Regions from separate parts of the Homo sapiens genome. Here regions 1 and 3 are each linked to region 2. The links come from fine-mapping of genetic effects on gene expression. A gene starts in region 2. Each other region holds a variant in brackets. All regions are shown on one strand. Distances are from middle to middle.

Evidence for each region. PIP is the estimated chance that this variant, and not a neighbour inherited with it, causes the effect.
Region 1: its variant is fine-mapped to the expression of CARS2 in whole blood (TOPMed, PIP 0.98). The same link has a PIP of 0.9 or more in lung and prefrontal cortex.
Region 3: its variant is fine-mapped to the expression of CARS2 in whole blood (INTERVAL, PIP above 0.99).

The regions. Positions count from the first base shown.
Region 1 is chr13:110,742,601-110,750,781 of GRCh38, reverse strand. No RefSeq gene overlaps it. Among named protein-coding and RNA genes, the nearest start is that of ING1, 33 kb to the right of the region's middle. The variant T/A (reference allele first, on the strand shown) is at 3,232.
Region 2 is chr13:110,702,298-110,710,478 of GRCh38, reverse strand. CARS2 (cysteinyl-tRNA synthetase 2, mitochondrial) reads left to right here and starts at 4,363. Exons shown (of 15, transcript NM_024537.4): 1 at 4,363-4,609; 2 at 4,908-4,958. The coding sequence starts at 4,386. RefSeq lists enhancers at 3,436-3,555, 3,566-3,945 and a silencer at 3,996-4,555.
Region 3 is chr13:110,641,365-110,649,545 of GRCh38, reverse strand. It overlaps CARS2 (cysteinyl-tRNA synthetase 2, mitochondrial), which reads left to right. Exons shown (of 15, transcript NM_024537.4): 11 at 2,307-2,445; 12 at 3,456-3,579; 13 at 5,063-5,161; 14 at 7,025-7,231; 15 at 7,938-8,129. The coding sequence ends at 8,009. Among named protein-coding and RNA genes, the nearest start is that of NAXD-AS1, 29 kb to the right of the region's middle. RefSeq lists an enhancer at 1-458. The variant G/T (reference allele first, on the strand shown) is at 4,194.

The sequences.
Region 1 (8,181 bases), 40 kb before region 2:
CATCCTCCATTTCCAGCCTGCTTCAGCAACACAATTCTGGCAATGTAATGTCTCTATAACAATGTCTCTATAACTATGGCTCCATCCTCTGACCTCAGCCTTGCAAGTAGCTGGGACCACGGGCGTGTGCCACCATACCTGGCTAATTTTTTTTTTTTTTGTGGAGATGGGTTTTTGCCATGTTTCCCAGGCTGGTCTTGAACTCCTGAGCTCAAGCGATCCACCCGTCTCGGCCTCCCAAAGTGCTGGGATTACAGGCATGAGTCACCACTCCCGGCCAAATATGTTAATTTTGAAAAGGTAAAACATAAGACTCTAGGAACAAAGCTAACAAAATATGTACTAGTCTATTGCGGGGGCAGGAGGGATCTAGAAAATTAATAGAAGACCAAAGTAAATTAACAGACATTATGTGTTAAGAATGTTTGTCCAATTTATGTGTACATTGAATGCAATTGCAGGTAAAATCTCGACAGGGCTTTTCATGGACTATGATAAGAGATTCAAAAATGTATATAAAACAGTCAATAACCAGGTGACATAGCAAGCCCTGAAAGAAAGAAAAGAAAAGAGAGGAATAGAGGAAAGAAAGAAACGAAGGAAGGAAGGAAAGAAAGAAAAGACGGCAAAATATCTAAATATCAAGATTTTTTTTTTGAATGTGGAAAAAAACATTTCTCATGTAAGACAAAAGAGCACAAACTATAAATAAATTTGACCACATTAAATCTGTAAACTTGTATTTCTGAGTTAGGTGGAAGACATATGCTGTTTAACACATTACTTCCTCTACCTCTGATATGTTTCAATTAATTCATAGAAAAAAGTGAGCCACCTGTATGCGGAGACTCATAGTGCGGGTGCAGCATCTTAACAGAGAACAAATAAAGCATGTTAACTTCAAACACCTACAAAGGAACATAGCCAAGGCAAGATTAGAAAGACACCAGATTTCTCCCCAAAACTCCTCGAATACATCTCTCATTACATTTATAATGCAATATATAATAATAAATCCTTCATTACATTTACATCATTAAAAATGTAAAAGCTGGCCAGGTGCAGCCATTTTACATTTTACATTAAAAATGTAAAAGCTGCCGGGCATGGTGGCTCATGCCTGTAATCCCAGCACTTTGGGAGGCAGAGGCTGGCAGATCACTTGAGGTTAGGGGTTCGAGACCAGCCTGGTCAACATGGCGAAACCCTGTCTACTAAAAATACAAAAATTAGTGGGCGTGGTGGCACATGCCTGTAGTCCCAGCTACTTGGGAGGCTGAGGCAGGAAAATTGCTTGGACCCAGAGGGCAAAGGTTGCAGTGAGCCAAGACTGGCCACTGCATTCCAGCCTGAGTGACAGAGCAAGACTCCATTTAAAAAATAAAATAAAATAAAAGTAAAAGTTGGCCAGGTGCAGTGGCTCATGCCTGTAATACCAGCATTTTGGGAGGCCAAGGTGGAAAGATGACTTGAGACCAAGAGTTTGATACCAGCCTGGGCAACACGGTGAAACCCTGTCTCTACAAAAAATTTTAAAATAAAATATTGGCCGAGCATGGTGGCGTATGCCAGCTACTTGGGAGGCTGAGGTGGAAGGATTGCTTAAGCCCAGGAGTTCAAGGCTGCAATGAGCTATGATCACACCATTGCACTCCAGCCTGGGCAAAAGCGCGAGATCCTGTCTCTATTTGTTGTTTTAAAAAATTTCTTCAAGTTATAATATTACAGTAGGTAACGGTGAAGAACAAGTAGGGGATATGGAAAATATAATTGGAGAAATCTTCCGGAATATATAGAGCAGTAATAAGAGAAGATATAAAAGATAAGTTAAACAAAAAAGAATTATCATTATTATTATTATTATTATTGGCTTCTGCTAACAGTGGCTTAGGTAATGCAGCTCAGGTCTCCAACTCCCAGGCTGGATGAAATATGAAACAGCATCCACTCGAAGGCTTGAGAGAGGCCCGAAGAATTATGGGACAAACCTGGAAGAAGAAAAAAACATACAATGTATATGAAACAGTAAATAACTGGGTAACATAGCAAGCCCTGAAAGAAAGAAAATAGGAATTAAACAAGAAAATAGGAAGAGGAATTCCAGAAGGAATATATTTTTTAATGGAGGAGAATAAGTTCAGACATGCAAGAAATTGAACCACCCAGCAATCATCTATTCTGAATTAATATATGCAACTGGGAAAGTGGTTCTTATGAATTGGGTCATTCCTGTCATGCCCAACTAACCCAGAGTCAAGAAGCCCGGGGGGCAGCTCTAAGCCCACACAGCATTGCTCCGAGAATTGAACCCTTCGCATGCCTGGCTGCTGAACTTCTGCTGTAACCTGAAACCAGTTTTACCTGATAACTTCTGAAACAACGTGCTGCACCTCTAAGACTAGTTTTACCCACTGCTGTCACTCACCATCAGAACTTGCCAGCTCCCCAAAACTTAACAAGTGCCAATGATCAAAGAGTAATACATAGCATTTCTCCTTTTTATAAAATCTCCAACCTCAACTTTATTCTTTGGACATCCCAAAGACCACCTGGTCTGTGTGTATATGCCCCAAATGGCAATTCTCATATCCCAAATAAAATGTTAAATTTAGAGATTTTTCTCTACAGATTTTATTTGACTTTATCATACACAGCGTCATTAGTAAAATCCAAAGCTGACTCACCTCGGGAAGAATTACTGGTTCTTGGAACAGCGGTGTGAGGTGCCCACAGTGGAGCCTTTTGAACCCCGCTGCATCTGCAAGTGGCCTCTTCTCCCCCTCCATTTTGTTCGAGTTCCATTTTATTCGTGATTTGGTTGGGAGGGTTTGTCCCACTCCTGTTGGAAAGATCTCCTCTTGGGGAAAGTTATTTTCCTCCTGTTGACCTCAGCTCCAAGGTTTGGATGAGGGGATTTTGTCCTTCATTTGGAGAAGGCCTATCGTCCTTCCTGGGAGGTACACACTTTATTTTCCATCTGCACTTGCATTCAGTTGGCCTCTGCATATTCAGTGCTACATTTAATTGGCTTTGTGTATTTGGCATTAAACTAGAGCACCCATAAAATGTAACTGTTAAAAACAAAGAAATTAGATGATTGTAAATAAAAATAAATGTTTATAAATAAACTTTTCATGTAAATGTTAAAATTATGTTATGTAAAATTAAATAATGCACATTAAATATCTGGATTGTAGCTAAATAAGATTTCTTAAAACTGAAACAAATTGC[T/A]AAATAAACAAAACGTCATTTTTGGCTTCTTAAATTTTATAAAAAGTAAATATATTTAGATCTATTAATTAAAATATGAATTTAGGAAAAAATAATTTTGCATGAGAATTTTATGTGGTAAATCTTTGTCCTATGACAAAATAATTTGTTGTTTAAAAATAAAATTATGGGACTAAGACTGGAAGTTTTAAGAAAGTGATAAAAGGTCTAAACAAGTCAAAGAGGATTTATAAAAGATGGGCCTAATGAAGTAAGTTACATGTGTAATCAGATTGTCTGGGATTGGAAATAAATTATGTATTTTTCTAAAAGTTCCACATTGGTGTCCACGGCACCGTGACACAGGACCAGAGTCTATACCTCTATATTTCAAATGAAAGTTTTCTGAAAGTATTGATCTGCTGTGAATTAAATTGCAAGAGGTTTTGATTTTTAATTTTAAAAATCTGTTTCTTTAACAGCCATCTGCTTTTTGAGATTCATTTCCCTAGTTTTAGATTTAAAATGCTGTCCTCTTCATTTAACATAATTTTTTCTTGAGCTAGAGTTTTGTTTTAGAGATTTTTCAAATGTGTATCTCAGAAGTCTAACTTTTGCTGTATTTGCTGCACATAATTTGCAGTCATATATCATTGCCTCCAACTTACTCTCCCCTTGAAAAGTCCTAGGATTATAACTCTTTCCTTCAACTTTCTTGCACACTCCTGTAACTTTATCCCCCTCTGTTCTAACTCTGCTGCCTGACACTGAAATGTTTACCCTGAAGACCTAGAAAAGCAATGTTTTGTTTAGCATAACTTGATTCTGTACTCCTGGCTTTTCTTAATATGTCTGAATTGTTCCATGTAACCAAGAAACTTCCCATGCTGTTACTAAAAGCCATATATTCCTCTGCTTAAGCTGCTAGTTTTCTTGTTTACATTCCTTTATGATGTAGTGTACACTCATAATCTTGAACACATTTTTCCTCTGTCTAATTAAATTCAAGCACCCTTTTTTTTTTATCAGGTTTGACCTCCAGGTTATCTAAATGAACTTTCTGTAACGAGAAATCATCACACTGTGCAAGGTTCTTTGCCTTTTTGGTAGCTGACCTAAGAAACAAAGATTTTATGCTTTACCAAGATAATTTCCTGTGTTGCCTTTTGTAGGTTTTTGATTACTTAGGAAAAGTGAGCTTGGAAGGGTTAATATTTTTACAATCGTGTAACTTTCCATATTGCTTTTGAAGTCTTTCAGTTGTCACTCTGGTTAAATGAATGACTATTATTTTATAGTGACCTCTGATTCTGTTTTGATCAAGTGTTTTGGGCCTTTTTTTTTTTTTCCTTTTTGAGACAGGGTCCCACTTTGTCACCCAGGCCAGAGTGCGGTGGCACAATCATGGCTCAATGTAGCCTCAAATTCCTGGGCTCAGGTGACCTTCCCACCTCGGCCTCCCTAGTAGCTGGGACCACAGATATGTACCACCACACCAGGCTAATTTTTTGGTTATTTGTAGAGACAGGGTTTCATTATGTTGCCCAAGCTGGTCTCAAACTCCCAGGCTCAAGTGATCTGCCCGCCTTTGCCTCCAAAAATGCTGGGATTGCAGGCGTGAGCCACTATGCATGACCTGTTTTGCACCTTTTGACATCTTTGACAAATGTCCCTAATATCAACTCCTAACTTAAGTTTTTTTCACCTTGAATTAACTCTGAGATTTTCCAGTCAGACCTGTGGAAAGCTTTGAAAGATATATTTCTCATCTTGTAGAGATATTAAATGATTAGGCTTATTTGGTAAATTGTGTGAAAAACATTGTCAAATAATACATGATACTAGATCTTTTAGTTACATTTACAGGTATGCTGTTTATATGTTTCTAAAATTACATAGTCATAGAAATCTAATATGCTATCAGTCATAATTCTGGTTATCTTGAAATACTATACGTAATAGAAATAACTAAATTTCCTTGTTGATTATGTTTATCAGATTTTTAACCATGACTACTCTAAGTTTTTGTCATCCACAGTTATTCTTTAAAATTCTTCTCGGCTGGGTGTGGTGGCTCACACCTGTAATCCCAGCACTTTGGGAGGCCAAGGTGGGTGGATCACCCAAGGTCAGGAGTTCAAGACCAACCTGGCCAACATGACAAAACCCCATCTCTACTAAAAATAGAAAAATTAGCCAGGTGTAGTGGCACACACCTGCAATCCCAGCTACTCAAGAGGCTAAGGCTGGAGAATCGCTTGAACCCAGGAGGCAAAGGTTGCAGTGAACTGATATCATGCCACCGCACTCTAGCCTGGGAGACAGAGCAAGATTCTGTCTCAAAAAAAAAATAAAAAAAGAAAATTCTTCTCAAAAAATTTTATAATCAGATTTGTGGAAAAGACTCCAGCAAGTACTGTTAAATACAGGTTTCTGCCACACCTAAGATAAATAAAGATTTCCAGAATTTTAATAAAGAGGCGAAGAACTCATGAAACTAATGGAGATCAAGCAGAACAAAAGTTGACTACATGAGATTGAATAACTGATGAAGATAATGCTTTTATGAGTGTTATTTGAAACATTGTTCTCTACTGAAATGCTTTCTTTCACGGATTTAAGAAAATTTTCTCTCTTAAACTATCTATAATTTATAGCAATTTGGTGAAGTATTGATATGATTTGGCTGTGTCCCCACTCAAATTTCATCTTGAATTTTAGTTTCCATAATCCCCACATGTCATGGGAGGGACCCAGAGGAAGGTAATTGAATCAAGGGGGCAGTTACCCTCATGCTGTTCTCATGATAATGAGTTATCACAAGATCTGATGGTTTTATAAGGGGCTTTTCCCCCTCTTGGCTCTGCACTTCTCCTTCTTGCCGCAATGTAAAGAAAGGTGTGTTTGCTTCCCCTTCTGCCATGATTGTATTTTCTGAGGCCTCCCCAGCCATGCTGAACTGTGAGTCAATTAAACCTCTTTCTTTTATAAATTACCCAGTCTCAGGAATGTCTTTATTAGCAGCATGAAAATGGACTAATAGAGTAAATTGGTTCTGGGTAGTGGGGCAATACTATAAAGATACCCAAAAATGTGGAAATGACTTTGAAACTGGGTAACAGGCAGAGGCTGGAACAGTTTTGAGGGCTCAGAAGAAGAAAAGAAGATATGGGAAAGTTTGGAACTTCCTAGAGACCTGATGGATGGCTTTGACCAAAATGCTGATAGTGATACGGACAATAAAGTCCAGACTAAGGTGGTCTCTAATGGAGATGAGGAACTTTTTGGGAACTGAAATAAAGGTGACTCTTGCTATGTTTGAGCTAAGAGACTGGCAGCATTTTGCCCCTGCCATAGAGATCTGTGGAACTTTGAACTTGAGAGAGATGATTTAGGGTGTCTGGCAGAAGAAATTCCTAAGCAGTAAAGCACACAAAAGGAAGCAGAGCAAAAAAGTTTGGAAAATTTGCAGCCTGATGATGTGCTGGAAAAGAAAAAACAATTTTCTGGGAGGAAATTCAAGCCAGCTGCAGAAATTTGCATAAGTAATGAGGAGTTGAATGTTAATCACCAAGACAATGTGGAAAATGCTTCCATGGCATGTCAGAGACTTCACAGCAGTCCCTCTCATCACAGGCCTCGAGGCCTAGGAGGCAAAAATGGTTTCATGGGCTGGGCCCAGGGCCCCTCTGCTCTGTGCAGCCTAGGGACTTGGTGCCCTAAGTCCCAACTGCTTCAGTGCCAGCTGTGGCTAAAAGGGGACAATGTACAGCTTGGGCCATTGCTTCAGAGGATGTAAGCCCCAAGCCTGGGTGGCTTACATATGGTGTTGGGCCTGTGGGTACACAAAAGTCAAGAACTGAGGTTTGGGAACCTCCACCTAGATTTCAGAGGATGTATGGAAACACCTGAATGTCCAGGCAGAAGTTTGCTGCAGGAGTGGAGCCCTAATAGAGAACCTCTGCTAGAGCAGTGCAGAAGGGAAATGTGGGATTGGAGCCCCCACACAGAGTCCGCACTGGGGCACTGCCTAATGGAGCTGTGAGAAGAGGGCCACTCTCCTCCATACCCCAGAATAGTAGATCCACCAGCAGCTTGCACCATGCACCTGGAAAAGCCGCAGACACTCAACATCAGGTCATGAAAGCAGCTAGGAGGGGGCTGTGCAAAGCCACCAAGGCAGAGCTGCCCAAGGCCATGGGAGCCTACCTCTTGCATCAGCAGGGTCTGGATGTGAGACATGGAATCAAAGGAGATCATTTTGGGACTTTAAGGTTTAATGACTGCCCAATTGGATTTCGGACTTGCGTGGGGCCTGTAGCCCCTTTGTTTTGGCCAGTTTCTCTCTTTGGAATGGGTGTATCTACCTAATGCCTATACCCTGATTGTGTCTAGGAAGTAACTAAATTGCTTTGATTTTACAAGCTCATAGGTAGAAGGGACATGCCTTGTCTTAGTTGAGACTTTGGACTTGGACTTTTGGGTGAATGCTGGAATTAGCTAAGACTTTGGGGGACTGTTGGGAAGGCATGATTGTGCTTTGAAATGTGAGGACATGAGATTTGGGAGGGGCAAGGGGCAGAATGATATGGTTTGGCTATGTCCCCACCCAAATCTCATCTTGTAGTTCCCATAATTCCCATGTGTAGTGGGAGGGAGCTGGTGAGAGGTAATTGAATCATGAGGGCTGTTACCCTCATGCTGTTCTTGTGAAAGTGAGTTCTCATGAGCTCTGATGGTTTTTATAAGAGGCTTTCCCCCAACCTTTGCTCTGCATTTCTCCATCCTGCTAGAAGGGCATGTTTGCTTCCCCTTCTGCCATGATTGTAAGTTTCCTGAGGCCTTCCCAGCAATGTGGAACTGTGAGTCAATAAAACCCTTTCCTTTATAAATCACCCAGTCTCAGGTATGTCTTTATTAGCAGTGTGAGAATGGACTAATACATGTGTACTTTTGTGAACACAGATAAAA
Region 2 (8,181 bases):
CTTTTTTCTAAAATTATATTTCCAGTCTAACTGAAAATGCTCAAACCTATGAGAGTCAGATATAAGAGATGAACATATAATTCTTTTTCTTTTTTTGAGACGGAGTCTTGCTCTTGTCACCCAGACTGGAGTGCAGTGGCGTGATCTCAGCTCACTGCAACCTCCGCCTCCCGGGTTCAAGCGATTCTCCTGCCTCAGCCTCCTGAGTAGCTGGGATTACGGGTGCCGGACGCCATGCCCAACTAATTTTTGTATTTTTAGTAGAGACGGAGTTTTGTCATGTTGGCCCAGGCTGGTCTCGAACTCCTGACCTCAGGTGATCCGCCTGTCTTGGCCTCCCAAAGTGCTGGGATTACAGGCGTGAACCACCGCGCCTGGCCAAGCATAGAATTGTTTAAGTTTCAAAGTGCTTAAAAAATAAATGCAAACTCATTCATCTTAAACTTGAAAACCCCTAAACCATATGCTACCGTAATCAACTCTACTTCTGATTTACAAGATTTTGCCTTGAAAGAAAATGTAATACTGAGAACTTGATTTTGTTATTGTTGTCATTAAGGACTGAGAAATGGCATTAGTGATATTTTGGAATCATTAACTTTAACACACTTCCTCGTTCTGACCTAGATTGGAGAGGGAGGTGACTTCAATTAAATGGATCCTCTTTTTATGTATATATGGTGTATTAGTCAGGGTTCTCTAGAGGGACAGAACTAATAGGATGGAGATATAGATATATATAATGTATATACATATATATGTTTATTAAGTACTAACTTACATAATCACAAGGTCCCACAATAGACTGTCCGCAAGCTGAGGAGCAAGGAGAGCCAGTCTGAGTCCCAAAACTGAAGAACTTGGAGTCTGATGTTCGAGGGCAGGAAGCACCCAGCACAGGAGAAAGATGTAGGCTGGGAGGTATAGTAATGAAGAGCATTAGCAGTCTATTTTACTTTACCTTAATATTCAACCTGCAGATATTCAATATGCAAAAAGATCACATTTCTAACCATCATTAGGTAATGAGCTATGTTTCTCCTTGTTTTGATGATCCGCAAAAGCCTTAAGAAAACAGAATTAGCTGCCGGGCACGGTGGCTCATGCCTGTAATCCCAGCACTTTCAGAGACCGAGGTGGGCGGATCACCTGGGGTCGGGAGTTCAAGACCAGCCTGACTAACATGGAGAAACCCCATCTGTACTAAAAATACAAAATTAGCTGGGCATGGTGGCACATGCCTGTAATCCCAGCTACTCAGGAGACAAGCAGGAGAATTGCTTGAACCCGGGAGACGTGAGAAAGAGGCAGGAGAATCGCTTGAACCCAGGAGATCACGCCATTGCACTCCAGCCTGGGCAACAAGAGTGAAACTCCATCTCAAAAAAAAAAAAAAGAAAAAAGAGAAAAGAGAATTGGCCAGGTGTGGTGGCTTAGGCCGGTATTCCCACCGCTTTGGGAGGCTGAGGTGGCTGGATCACTTGAGGTCAGGAGTTCCAGAGTCCCAGACCAGCCTGGCCAACATGATGAAACCCCATCTCTACTAAAAATACAAAAATTAGCTGAGCGTGGTGGCACGCACCTGTAATCCCAGCTACTCGGGAGGCTGAGGCAGAAGAATCACTTGAATCTGGGAGGTGGAGGTTGCAGTGAGCCGAGATCGTGCCACTGCACTCCAGCCTGGGTGATAGAGTGAGACTCTGTCTCAAAAATAAATACATAAAAATAAAAATAAAAATGCAAAAATTAGCTGGGCACGGTGGTGTGCACTTGTAATCTCAGCTACTGTGGAGGCTGAAGCAGGAGGATTGCTTGAACCAGGAGGCAGAGGCTGCAGTGAACCCAGATCAGGCCACTGCACTCCAGCCTGGGTGACAGAGCAAGACTGCCTCAAAAAAAAAAAAGAAAACATAATAGAATCACTGCCAGTGAGGGGCTAAAAACATTACATGAATTTTCTGAAGACAGAAGATACTATTGTTAATTTAAAAGTTGTGATGTTCTATGAACAATTCAAATATACCGCATGTCCAGATTCATGTGCAGATTTGATCTTCAGTGTTACTAAGCTGCTTTCAGAATCTCTGCTCCAGTTATTTCCTTGAATTCGTGTGTTCTCACAGATTGCAACTGAGCTTTTTGTTAATTTGCTTTATTTACTGGCACATCTAATATCTGAATCAGCTTTATCAGGTATTTTACTACCCAGATTTCTTCCCACCTGCACAATTAATCCCTTTCGTAAGGGATTAATTCATCAACATTCAACAAGCCCTTTTATTTCTTCTAAATTTTTTTTTTCCAGCCACAGCAAAACAAAACAAACAAAACCCAAGTCCTTTTCTGAATTTAGTGCAGGGCACAGTGAGAAGTTCAAAATAATGTACAATTTAAGATACTCAGGGAGATAAATATACACACAGCACTGGAAAGTTACAAAATAACATAAGGCAGGCAAGAAGTGATAATATTCAGGAGAATTTAGAGTAGTTAGGTAACATGAGTGGTTAGCATTGATGTAGGCTATAGGGTCTCCTAATTCTAACATTTTAACCTTATTAAATTAGACAATAGATTACATTAGACTACAGTTAGCTTGAAACAGAATTGCAGAGTTGGACTCCAGGATATTGAGAAACTACTCTAGGTACACACTTGTTTGTCTCTACTTAAACCTTTGCTTTTTAATAAAACACCAAAGCAAACTAAAAACAACAACAAAAAACCAGAGGAACGTCTCCTGTTTTGAGAACTGGAAAAGCAAAGGGGACTTTTTCTTTTTTTTGAGACATCGTATTGCAAGACACCAATAGAGGCACTTTTTTTTTTTTTCAGGCGGAGTCTCCCTCTGTTGCCCAGGCTGCAGTGCAGTGGTGTGACCTCAGCTCACTGTGAGCTCTGCCTCCTGGGTTCAAGCGATTCTCTTGTCTCAGCCTCCCCAGTAGCTGGGACTACAGATGCACGCCACCACGCCCGGCTAATTTGTGTATTTTTAGTAGAGACGGGGTTTCACCATATTGGTCAGGCTGGTCTCGAACTCCTGACCTCAGGTGATCCATCCGCCTCAGCCTCCCAAAGTGCTGGGATTACAGGTGTGAGCCACTGCGCCTGGCCCAATAGAGGCACGTTTGTCAAGCTATTGTGAGTAACTTTCAGAATGTTTTTGTTCTCAAGATACGGGATCATGGTGGGGGAGGCATGCTGTGTATTGGAGTGCAGACATGGTGTGTGTTGGGTTGCACACTGTGTATTGGGGTGCACACTGTATTGGGGTGTAGATGTGTGGGGGCGCACACTCTATTGAGGTGCACATTGCATTGGAATGCAGACAGTGTTTGCTGGGATGCACATGTGCTGTGTTGGGGTGCACACTGTACTGGGGTGCAGACATGGTGTGTGTTAGAGTGCACAGTGTATTAGGGGTGCACACTGTATTGGGGTGTACACTGTACTGGGGTGCAGACATGGTGTGTGCTGGGGTGCACACTGTATTGGAGTGCACACTGTATTGGGATGCTGATGTGGTGTGTGCTAGGGTGCATACTGTGTATTGGGGTGCAGACTGTATGCTGGGTTGCACACTGTGTATCGGGGTGCACTGTGTTGGGATGCTGATGGTGTGCTGCAGTGCACACTATTGGGGTGCAGATGTGTGTGCTGGGGTGCACACTGTATTGGGGTGCACACTGTATTGGGATGCTGATGTGTGTGCTGGGGTGCATACTGTGTATTGGGGTGCACACTTCTTGGGGTGCAGACTGTGTGTTGGGTTGCACATTGTGTATCGGGGTGCACTGTGTTGGGATGCTAACGGTGTGCTGCAGTGCACACTGTATTGGGGCGCAGATGTGTGTTTGGGGTGCACACTGTATTGGGGTGCACACTGTATTGGGGTGCTGACGTGTGTTCTGGGGTGGACACTGTGTATTAGCGTGCTGACGTGGGCTGTGCTGGGATGCACACGTGCTTCGCTAACAGGCCAGGGCCCGGCAACAGAAGCTTGCACTGTAAACGCTCCTCCCGCGCGGCGGACACAGCTCCAGGCTGGTACCGCGCGCACACGGACGCCTCGCAGGACCTGGGCTAATAAGGAGAGGAGATCGGCACGGTACCGCCTCTTCCCACGGCCTCCCGGCGCGGCACCGCCCTCCTCCCTCCACCCCGGGCCTTCCCCGCCCCAACCTCTTCGGGCCCTGGTTCTCCACCCTTGCCGCGGGCGACTCGAGCCAGGCCAAAGGGAGGCGCTACCTGAGGACTGCTTCCGGGAGTGGGCGTGGCCCCAAGGGCGTGGGCGGGGCGGGGCGGGGCCGTGCTGCTCTTGAGCGACCGGCAGCGTACCCGGCGTGGCTCCCGTCTCCGCCCAGTCGTAGGCGCTGGCCGCTGACATGTTGAGGACTACGCGCGGCCCAGGCCTGGGCCCCCCGCTGCTCCAGGCCGCGCTGGGCCTTGGGCGGGCTGGGTGGCACTGGCCTGCGGGCCGGGCGGCGAGCGGGGGGCGCGGGCGGGCCTGGCTGCAGCCCACGGGCCGGGAGACGGGTGTGCAGGTGTACAACAGCCTCACCGGGAGGAAGGAACCCCTAATCGTGGCGCACGCCGAAGCCGCCTCCTGGTGGGCCGCGCGGGACTGGGGCACGGGCGGGGGCCGATCGTGGCGGAGACTTCCCACGGCTGAACGGGATCTGGGCTCGGGGAGGGCGTTTAGGAAGCTGCATGGAGGGCGCCGTTCTAGAAGCTGGGGGTGCGCGGTGCTTTTGCAGGTTTGGGTGTGAATTGAGCAAGTATGAAAACCCCGGCTATTCATCCCCCAGAAGTGATTACTTTAAAAATTATATGATCATTATAACTCAGAATCGAATGTCCTTTCTTGCAAATATGTTCCACACGATGGATTTTAACTTTGTTTCCAGGTATAGCTGTGGACCAACTGTATATGATCATGCGCACCTTGGCCATGCTTGGTGAGTTTCCTGGATTTGAATTTTCATACTTCAAAGGACCATTTATTTTTGAAAGCCTTTTGCTGATTTCTTTTATCTCTTAAGTGGCAACTTAGGGATGCAGAATAATTCCTACATTCCAGGCATTGTGGGAAATGTTACAACCTCATTTGGTTCTTATAGGGATTCTGAGCACTTACACCCGTTTTACAGGTGAGGAAACTCAGGGAGACAATGGAGCACTGAAAAATGACCCGTTTTGGAACTAGATGTTTTTTGCTGGGTTTAGTGACATCAAGAGGCCTTTGCGGGGTCCCGGGGTCCTGCTGATCAGTCATTCCTGGGCCCCACCACTTCTTAGCTTCACAGCACTGAGCAGGTCACTTTATTGCTTTGAGTCCTGGTTTCTTCATCTTTGAGATGGGAATGATAACTTGGATCTTATAACAATTTTAGTAAATAATGCCCATAAAATGCTGCTTAACACTGTACCTCACATGTGAGATGTCACGGGGCTCAATAGTGATTGAGTAACTTTCCTAAGATGACACATTGAAGAGGTATTGGAACTGGGGTGAGGCTTGGTTTCTCTGACTGCGAAGTGGTTGCTCTCTTGACCTCTTTAACTGTAAGATGTACTGCCTCCTACATTTGCCAAAATTACCACTTTTCCTAATATTTTGTACATTTCCAAAATATAATGTACAAAAATGACATATTATAGATTTTTTAAAACTTAGTATTGTTCAGTCCTAGACTAAAAGTAAAAAGTTACATTTACTCTGTATACTTTTTTTTTTTCTTGAGACGGAGTCGCTCTGTCGCCCAGGCTGGAGTGCAGTGGTGCAATCTCGGCTCACTGCAACCTCTGCCTCCCAGGTCCAGTTGCCGCCTCCTGGCAGCAATTCTCCTGCCTCAGCCTCCGGAGTAGCTGGGATTACAGGCATGTACCACCACGCCCGGCTAATTTTTGTATTTTTAGTAGAGACGGAGTTTCACCATGTCAGCCAGGCTGGTCTCGAACTCCTGACCTCAAATGATCCACCTGCCTTGGCCTCCCAAAGTGTTGGGATTACAGGCATGAACCACCATGCCCGGCATACTCTGTATACTTTAAATATACATTTTTCCCCTTTACTTTGGGCTAACATACTTTTAATTATCAAAAGCATATTTCGACATCTTTCTTGAATTATAAAATATGTTGGGGAAATATTAAAAACAAAACCCCCACCCTGGAAAACCTTTCCACAAAGGTAGAAGAGAAAGAAAACAGTTCTGTTACTGAATAAGCCTTAAACCAGAAGGGGATGAGCTAAAATAACTGCAAAGACAGAAAGAAATCTCATCCTTCTATGGAGCTTTGGGGATACAGCCTGTCTCAGTCTATGAGTCTGCTGTAACAAAATATCCTAAAATGGATGACTTATAAACAACAGAAATTTCTTTCTTTCTGGGGCTAGGAAGTCCAAGATGAAGGCACCAGCAAATTTGGTGTCTGTTGAGGGTCTGCCTGCTGTGTCCTCACATGGTAGAAGGTAGAGGGAATTCTCTGAGGTCTCTTCTATGAGGGCATTAACCCCAGTCATGAGCTCTCTGCCTCCATGACTTTGTCACTCCCAGAGGCTCCACCTCCTAAAACCGTCACCTTGGGAGTTAGGGTTTCAACCATGAATTTGGAGGGAAGACAAACATTCAGACCATAGCATAACCCATTGCTTCAGGTGAGTTACAGTGTGGAGTCAGATGACAAGGTAGGCCCATCTCCTCCCAGGACACTGGGAAACGGGGCGTTATTTTCCTTGATTACATTTCAGAGGTGGGTCCCAGGTTTTGAAATTTTCTTGAGTTGTAAAACTGCCAAGAGGTTTATTTAGCCATTTAAAAGATTGACATGCATTTGAAGAGGACTGAGGAAGAAATCCTAAAAGTTGTTGGGGAGAGAATCTCTTCTCATTTCCAACTAGGAGAGTCAAGTCTTGCAGTTTAAATTTGTATAATATTTACCTTTATGACTACAGAAAAGAATACACATCTTAAGTGCGCAGCTGAATGCATGTTATAAGCTGTGTCCACACAGGGCCTTCCCAGGGGCTGGTGGGAGCTTGGGACTCTCCTGTTGACCACCTTCCTGTCAGCCTGGCCAACCCCTCCAGGCCTTTGCTGGGCTGGCCTGCCCCACCTCCCTCTCCCCATCTCAGCTCTCCTAGCATTGTACTCCTTCAGTGGTTATTTATGCAACCATCTGATGTCGTTAGCATGATGTAATTATTTCAGCTCCAGCAGGACAGGGATGCACACAGTGCCTGCTGCAGAAAGGTAGAATTTGAGCAATGGGTAGCACTCAGTTCACTGGAAAGAGACACCCTGAAAAATAGCCTCCACCATTTCCAGAAGAGGTCAGAGGGATGGAAACCCTGTTTGGGGAAAACAAATAGATCAGTTTGGTGCTAGGGGGGAGGAGCAGGGGAAGGGATGGGGCGTCAGTTGCAGCCAGACTGGGGAGGGTGCTGCGTGGTCTGGCCCAGAGAGTTTGGATTTCATGCCATGGTAGACGGAGTCACACTGGAGCGTTTTGAGGGAAGACTCTTAGCAAATGAATCATTTCAGCGATCACCCAGATGAGCACACTCACCCAGTGGATGGAGAAAATGGGGCAGAAAGAGCCGGGCTGACGGTAGCATGGTTCATGGTGGAGTCACAGAAGCAAGCTGAGGTCTCCTGATGCCATGTTCTTCAGACTTGGCTGCCCGGCACTTGCAAGGCGTGTGTGTGCGTGTTTGTGTATAGAGTGGCCCCTGTGGTCACAGCCTGCCTGCAGCGTCTCAGGGTCTCAAATTGCTCATGACCCTGCATTCCGCCAGCTCTGCCAAGCTGTGGAGCCTCTGCTGTCTCCAAGGGCAGTTCCGGGACTCAGCCTGGGCTCCTCTGGGCCAAGCAAGGGACTTGACTCTTGTTTTCATTTGCTTTAGGTTCCTGTAATTTTTTTCTTGTAAATCTCACATCTTTTAGACTCTTTCCCAACTTGAGGTGAATGAAGGAGCATGGTGATGAGAATGGTAATAATAGCTTGTGTTTTTAGAATTCATGCTGCACAGGCGGTAAGGCTGGACAGCAGTCCTGTTAGGTGGTGGGATTTTGCCAAATTTATAAGCAAGCCGACTGAGCTGTAAGAGGTTAATTATCTTGTTGAGTTTTGGAGATAGTTTTGTCCCTGGAATCAAGATTTGGTCTCAGCTGTGTT
Region 3 (8,181 bases), 61 kb after region 2:
AATCTATCTGGCCAGCACACTTTATGTCACACACAAAGCTTTGGTGGGTTTGGGTGAGCCCCTGGGCTGGTCCCCTATCCATCTCCCTCCCCTGTGCTGTGCCTGCAGAATTTCACCCGGCCTGCAGCTCCTGTCAGCGTGAGAGGGGCACACAGACACCTGCACCTTTGACCACCGAAAGGCTACCTTGGGCCATGTCTTTATCCTGGCTCTGACGCCACGTCGTTGGCTTTCTACTGCAAACTCAGGTTTTCTGAGACGTGGTCTGAACCTCTCCCCTGGGTGGAACTGCAGTGCATCGGCCCAGGGGACCTGCGCTCACGGGCGCACGAGCTTGAGAAAGAAGTGTGGCCAGCCTCGTGCTCGCCTGGCCTCGTGCAGCATCTGTGTGTGGTGTGCACTTACGCGTGATGAAAGCAGCCCAGCCGTGCCGTGAGAGGAAGAGTCGGGGAGGCGAATGGGCTGGAGAAACTGTTTCCGCCTGGCTCCGTGTTGCTGGAAACGGGCAGAGGCGGCGGAGATGAATCCCGTGTGCGAGCGCAGAGCTCTCTTCCCGGCTCGTGCTTGCTCCCCTCGTGGCTGGGGGCTGTGGTCCTTTCAAAGCTGTTCCCTGCGGATCCCTTCCCAGGGGCACTTTGCCCTCGGAAGCCCCGCCTCCCTTCTCGCAGATTGTGGCAGGATTAGGGGCAGCATCTTGTATGACTGTCCTAATTGTGTGCAGTTCTTTTTGAGCTTTGAATACGAAGTTTGGTCTGAAAAGAGGCTTTCTCAAGCCTGGGCAGCTCTTTCAGGAACACATTCCCAGTGGGAATTTTGGGTGGGATTCAGGAGGCACCGATCTGCCAGTGAGGGATTTCTAGGAACACAAGGTTAGTCAGGACGTGGATCCCCACAGTGGACACGACTGCCCCACCCCGCCGAGGTCGGAGGTGGCCTTGAGGAGCTGGGCCGTCGCTTGCTGTCTGAGCTTCCATCCACGAATGGTGTGGGAGTTCGGGATCTTCCCAGACATTCTTTCTTCACCTTTGGGAAGATGGAGGGGGACGGTGGTGGCATCCCTTGCAGTCTGTGCTGCGCTGACACTTTGGAGAAGTGTCTCCCATCTGTAGAGCAGAATCCTCTTTGGAGAAATGCAGCTGTCCTTGACCTTGAGGCAGAAGGCGTCTCCATCCTGGGCATCTGTCTGCCCCTCCCCATCTGGATGCCTCATCTTGCTGTGTCATTAATGGTAATCTTATTCTAACAGCCTCCCATGCATCAACTCTATCAGTCCCCGAATATTATCTTTAAATTTTGTCAGATCGCTTTGTGGGTTTCTGGCTTTTTCTCTTTTCTATCAAGCTATTCAAAGCAAAAACTGAAAGTGAATTTAGAAAAAAAGGAAAAATGTTAAGTAAGATATTAGACAGCCCTGGGGGAGGTTTTCACTGTGTTGCTTCCAGCTTGAAGCCATGTCTGATTTTGGAATTCTCGTTTTGAAGTCAGGACTTGGAGGCATGTTGAGATGTAATTTTCAGCATATGTGTCCAGATAGGCTCTTTTTATTCTTGTGGTTTTCAAAGAGCTGTTTAAAGCAGCACTCCTCAAAAGCATGGACTGTGGACTCAGACAGCCTGGGAAACAGAGTAGGCACGAGAAGGTTCTAGAAATATGTGGCTGGCTTTGCTGATATCCAAGGATATGTGATCATTGCAAAGCGATTCACTCCTGTTGTCTTACCCATCAGAATGCAGTAGACTAGAAACCACAAGAAATGAACAGATGTAAACAGAAACACTGGCCCCTCATCCAGGTGGCCTAAGAAACACCCACAGACTCTAAAGCCAGGTCTGGGGACTGCTCCTCCCTCCCTCTTTGGGCTGTCCCATCACACACAGGCACTTTCCCTCGGGAGGGCCTTCCCTAGAGGTGCCTCTGACCCCAGGGCGGGGCTCCCTCTTTCCAGAGCTAGCCATTCATCCGCACCTCCATCCATCCAGGGCGGGGCTCCTTCTTTCCAGAGCCAGCCATTCATCCGCACCTCCATCCAGTCAGTGGAAATGCACCTCTTGGCTGGAAGCACTGGGAGCATGTCTCCACCGCCACCTTGTTCTCCCACGGCAGGTGCCACTGAGCTGGGACAGACCCTGTGGTCTGTGTCCAGTGGGCCTAGGGACTCGCGGTCACTGGAGGGCGTGAGAGCCACATGTCCCGCTCTCCGTGTGGTCCCTGGGTGGCAGTGCCCTCAGAAAACACTGATTCTGCTGGACCAGGGCAGGGGCACAGCATGGTGGGCACCGCCTCAGTGACCATCTCTTCCTCCTCAGCCATCGACTACAGTGACAGCGCCATGCTCCAAGCTCAGCAGCTGCTCCTGGGGCTGGGCTCTTTCCTGGAGGACGCACGTGCCTACATGAAGGGGCAGCTGGCCTGCGGCTCCGTCAGGGAAGCGATGCTGTGGGAGAGGTAAGAGGCCCGCCTAGCACCCGGCGTGGCACCCCTCCTGTGGCCTGCTGGGTGCTGCTGGTGGGCTCTTGAAGGGGAAGAGGGGCCCCCAGGAGACAGGGCGCTGGACAGGAGGTTTGGGGTCAGGGACTGCCCAGAGAGGCCCCAGGAGACAGGGTGCTGGGCAGGAGGTGCAGGTGTGGGGTCAGGGGCTCCCCAGAGGCCACAGGGGACTGGGAGCTGGACAGGAGGTGTGGGGTCAGGGGCTCCCCAGAGGCCACAGGACACTGGGTGCTGGACAGGAGGTGTGGGGTCAGGGGCTCCCGAGACATCCCAGGGAGACGGCGCTGGCAGGAAGTGTGCCTGGGGCCCTCGGGCTCTGAGCCCCCTGCTCAGAGTGGCTTTGGGCTCGGGTTCCCTGTGCGAGGAGCGGAGCTGCTCATCCCTCCCAGTCCTGACTGTGAGGAGCCAAAATCTATAAAACACACAGGCCTGGGCCCACAGCATCGCCTCCACTCCCCACCCACGGGTGTCCTGGGCAGCGCTGCACATTCATCCCGGCATGCAGAGTCTTCCGGATGGTCTTGGTGATAACCCACCCCTGCCACTTCAGCAGGGTAGGCAGCCAGTGGCCACGGGAGGCTGAGATCCGGGAGCCCCGGGCTGGGCCTCCCCAGCCTCTCTTTGTGAGTGGTCAGCCGTGCCGTCTCTCCCCCACCGAGTCTTCCTTGCCACTCCCCTCAATATCTATTGATTTTTAAAACCATCATGAAAATGCCCACGTGTGTCTTGTATTTTAAGTGTCACAGGTGACCTCTGCTCTGGGACTTTTTCTTGGGGTAACATGACAGTTTGCAGTTGATGTTACATAATTTTCTGCTACTCAGGAACTCAAGTCTTTGGGAATATGACCTAGAGAAAGTCCCCAGATTAGAGCCCCCAGCGTCTCTCCCTGGGGAAGGACTGGTGTGGGGGCCGCCTGGGGAGAGTGGAGCTCCCTCTGCTGTGACTGTTCTCTCCTCTTCCCTCAGGCTCTCCAGCACCAAGAGGGCCGTGAAGGCGGCCTTGGCAGATGATTTTGACACACCCAGGGTGGTTGATGCCATCCTGGGCCTTGCACACCACGGGAATGGACAGCTCAGGGCGTCCCTGAAGGTAGCTCAACGAACAGGTGGCCTTGCGGTCCTGCTGCCAGGGGCATGGGTCGGGTCCTCTGGTGGGTTTTTCTCATGTCGGCTGGGTGGCATCTCTGCTGATTTCGCCTCCCGCAGCTTCTGTGGAGGAACTCATGGAGCCCGAGTCTGCCGCTGACACACGGGATGGCACCCAGCCTGGGGCTTGACCCTCCCGGGCCTCAGGGCCACCTGGGGAACAAGCTCTCAGGAGCCCCTGAGGCTGAGAAATTCTGTGTGCTTGATCCTCAGGGGACACATCTCATGTCCCCACTGCATTCATGGCCCTTTCACAGAGAGAGCTTTTGTGGGGAACTTTTTAAGGAAAGACCCATTTACCCCAAGGCACTGTTATGCAATCTGCACCCCAGTGTGATGACCACACCAAGCACCCAGGGGTCTGAGCCTGGACTCGTGGGTCACTGCAAGTGTTTGGCAGGTGGGACAAAGACCGTGAAGGCGGCGGCAGGCTTTGGTTCCTGCACGTCTGAGGGTCCCCTGCCAGGCCCTGGGAGGCGCTGCGTCAGGAGCCCCGTGACCTTTGATGACCCGGGAAGCCGAGGCTGTTTGTGCCTCTCCCACCTCTGGAAACACCTG[G/T]GGGTTCTGGCCACATGCTCTGTTAGTTGAGCATCTCTGTGGAGGTCTCCATCCCTGGCTGCGTGCAGTGTTGGGTTTCAGAGCACCAGCAGGTGGGGCAGGGTGCCATGTGCCCTTGCCGGGTGCCTTCGGTCCAAATACTGCAGACGCGCAGGGCTCGCCTCTGAGGGGGGCGGGCATTTGAGTCACAGCCGGCTGCAGGAACAGGCTGCCCCGCACTGAAGGCAGCCAGGCCGGGCTGGGGCAGGTCCCGCAGCCAGGCTGCTCCTGCACGGGAGCTCCTCCTCCTCAGCCCGTCCGCGGCCTCCTGCCTTCACCGCAGCTGCTGCCGGCACTACCAGGCTGGCCCAGCTCTAGGGCAACAGGGGCCTCTTGTGGCAAGGGGCGGGACAAGTAAAGAGGCTGGCTTTTGTCCTGCGCTTTTCCTTCCCAAGCTTTGCAATTCTGGGGCACCTGCAAACTAAGGCTAGTGTCACCCAAGGGTCTCTGTGCTTGGTAACTGATGTGAGCCACGTACCAGGATTTCCCCGTTTTCTGAGAAACCCAGCCCAGTGCCCACTCAGCCTCCACCTACCATGCGCCACCTGCCATACTCCACGGTCATGCTTCACCCGCGAAGCCTGATGAGCTAGTCACCACCCACATGACTGATGGGTAAACTGAGGCACAAGAGATTCCTCATGCACCTATAGTTGTATGGTCTGCAGTGAGGTAGCCGATGCCAGAGCTGTGTCCTCCCTCCATAGAAGCCAGGAGAAAGGCCAGACTGAAGTGACCTGCTGAAGCCTTTGTCTTTTGACATTGAATTCCGTTTGCCCACTGCCATCAAGACTGCTTTTAAGGAGCTTCTGCGACATGATCTCTTACAGGAACCTGAAGGGCCGAGAAGTCCTGCTGTGTTTGGTGCCATCATCTCTTACTTTGAACAGTTTTTTGAAACTGTTGGAATTTCTCTGGCAAATCAACAGGTAGGTCCTATTATTTTAAATGCTTAATTCTGGAATTTTCTCCATGTTGGGACAATAACCTTTACCCTTTTAACTTGGAATAGAGCATTATGATGCCACACTAATGTATTTACCTGTTTAAAAACATGTTACTTTCCTGGAAAAATAAACACACTCAGAGCCAATACTTATTAATTGGAATTGCACAATTCTACTTCTGCAGTTGGCAAACTCTCGTGCGCAGAACCAGAGATGAGTCCATCTCAGCAACAGAATGTCGCCAGCTCTGCACACACGTTTATGTTCAAAGACTCTCAGAATGTGCAGAAGTCACAGGCACAGTAAGAGAACATTTTTTCCTGACCCATTTGAGGGCAAGTTGGCGACCTGAGCCCCCTTGCCTGGCACATGTTTTGTACGGACAGGACGGGCTCCCCGACAGGCACGAGTCACCTGCACCTTCCCAGCGAGGCTCACCCTGGCTGTGCAGTGAAGGTGGACGCTGCCAGGCTTCTCCACATTCCTTCTCTTCCGTTGTAACTCAAGAGCATTTTTGCAAAGAGACTTGGATCCTATGAAAATGTCCTCTTCCTTATCAGGCTCACCTGAAACTCGTTTATTCTATCAATACAGATTTGAGGTTTCCTGCCTTATTCTTAAAGTCCCCACCATCACTTTGTATGTGGCTGACAGAGGCCCCTTGGGGCTGGCGCTGTGTCCCTGAACATCCCTGTCATTCTTTGGACACCCTTGTAGAATTCTCAGCACAAGGCGCTCTGGCTCTTTTGGGGTGTGGCTCGGCTGCTGCTGCCTGGACGGGGGCTGCCACTCTAGACCAGCTGCCCAGCACCCCGAGGGTCCCGCCGCTTGGGACTGGGGCCCAAGCAGGTGTGCTGAAGGCCTGGCTCTGGGCCAAACATGTCTCGCTGGCTCTCAACAGAGAACTATAGTGTCTTTTCCAAGTTTGGCTCATTTGTATACCTGTTGATCACCTGGTAGACTTAGTTCCCCTTTCCAGCAGTCCGGCGTCTGTTGCCAATCACATAAAAGTCGACTGGTGTGAGATGACCCAAGTTTTTGCAATGTACATGTTCATTTTTAGGGGTGGCTTTCCGGAGTCTGTTTTGAGTAAGAAAAGTGGGATCTGGCCAAGCTCTGCCTAGCCCTTGTCAAAGATATCTCATTCACCTTCCTCTGGCCGCAAGGCCCAATGTCTGGGCCCACTCTGGGCTCATATTTCTGTAATAACAAAAACTGTCTTTTATCATGGAAGCAATAACTGAGGGGTGTGTGAGGTTTAAGTAGTTTGACACCAAGGTCAAATGTTGTGTCTGTTTCTTATTTTACACACATGGATTTAACAAATAGGTACAGCTGCCCCTTCCACACCGCCCCAGGATCTGTTCTCAGTGGGAGGACAGCGCGAGGCCTTCTGCGCAAATCCCGTCCTCAGCACCTGAGGCTGTGAATCTCAGACCATTTGCCGAAACACACGTGTGCAAGCGCTCAGTCGCTGCCCCCCAGCCTCATCCTCAGGTTGCTCCTGATACCTCGGCCACAATTGCGTGAGGTCTGGAAGCCAGGGAGCGTTTGTGTTCAGGGCGGGGCGGCATGCAGCCCCCAGCCCTTTCTTCCAACTCCCGAGTGAGGATCACTCAGCCTTGCTTGGACGACAGATGCTCAGAGTTGAGTGGAGCCTTGCCCAGAGCCCAGCGCTCGCGGGCTGTACCCATCCCTGCCAGACCCAGAAAGAGGCCCAGCTGCAGGGAATCAGGGAAGCCCAGGGCTGGGTGGGTGTCGGCCCAGAGCCCAACCACGGGGTGGGGAGGGGGCATCCACAATCCACAGTCTCCGGGGGACGTAACCGCGCCCTGCTGGCTTCAGTACGTTTCAGGAGACGGCAGCGAGGCTACCTTGCATGGTGTGGTGGACGAGCTGGTGCGGTTCCGGCAGAAGGTCCGGCAGTTTGCGCTGGCCATGCCCGAGGCCACGGGGGACGCCCGGCGGCAGCAGCTCCTAGAAAGGCAGCCCCTGCTGGAAGCATGCGACACCCTGCGCCGGGGCCTGACTGCCCACGGCATCAACATCAAGGTGAGTGCCGCACCAAGGTCAGGGACATCACCCCAGGAGCCGGGTAGGTCAACAGGACGTGGGGCCATCAGAGGCCCAGACATCCCCCGTGACCATGCTTTTTTTTTGAGACGGAGTTTCACTCTTGTCACCCAGGCTGGAGTGCAATGGCGTGATCTCGGCTCACCACAACCTCTGCCTCTGCCTCCCAGGTTCAAGCGATTCTCCTGCCTCAGCCTCCTGAGTAGCTAGGATTACAGGCATGCACTCCCATGCTCGGCTGATTTTTTATTTTTAGTAGAGACAGGTTTTCTCCACGTGGGTCAGGCTGGTCTCAAACTCCCGACCTCAGGTGATCCTCCCACCTCAGCCTCCCAAAGTGCCAGGATTACAGGCGTGAGCCACTGCGCCCTGCCCATGCTTCTGAGTAGAGAAACCCACCCCCATAAAAAATGAGGTGGGAGGGCCGTGAGGGAGGGGCCAAGTTGGCTGCAGGGGACGCTGAGCACGGGGACGTGGGTCCTGCTCAGCCCCCGCCACCTCCTGCAGGTGCCTTGAAGCTCCTGGCCTTCTGCTGGAGGTAGTGGGGCCCTTTCTAAGCGCCTGGCAAGCTTTTTAGGACAGGCCGGTGAGGGAACAGGCACCCTGAACCTGATTACGCCTGTCAGCCCCCTGTGCCACATGACGTGGTGTCTGCTCAGAGTTGGACCTCACTCTTCTTCTCCAGGACAGAAGCAGTACAACATCCACGTGGGAACTGCTGGATCAAAGGACAAAAGACCAAAAATCAGCGGGCTGAGGATGGAGCACAGCCATGAACCTGCTCACGACAAGACGCACCCATGCTTCTCAGGGTCAAGGCTTTATGTTAAAGCTTCCTGTCGGGGCTGCTAGGTCAGCATTAAAGTAAGGCAACCAACAGTGTCCCACTGGCGTCTGTTTGTTAGTAACTGAGCCTAAACACTCACTGC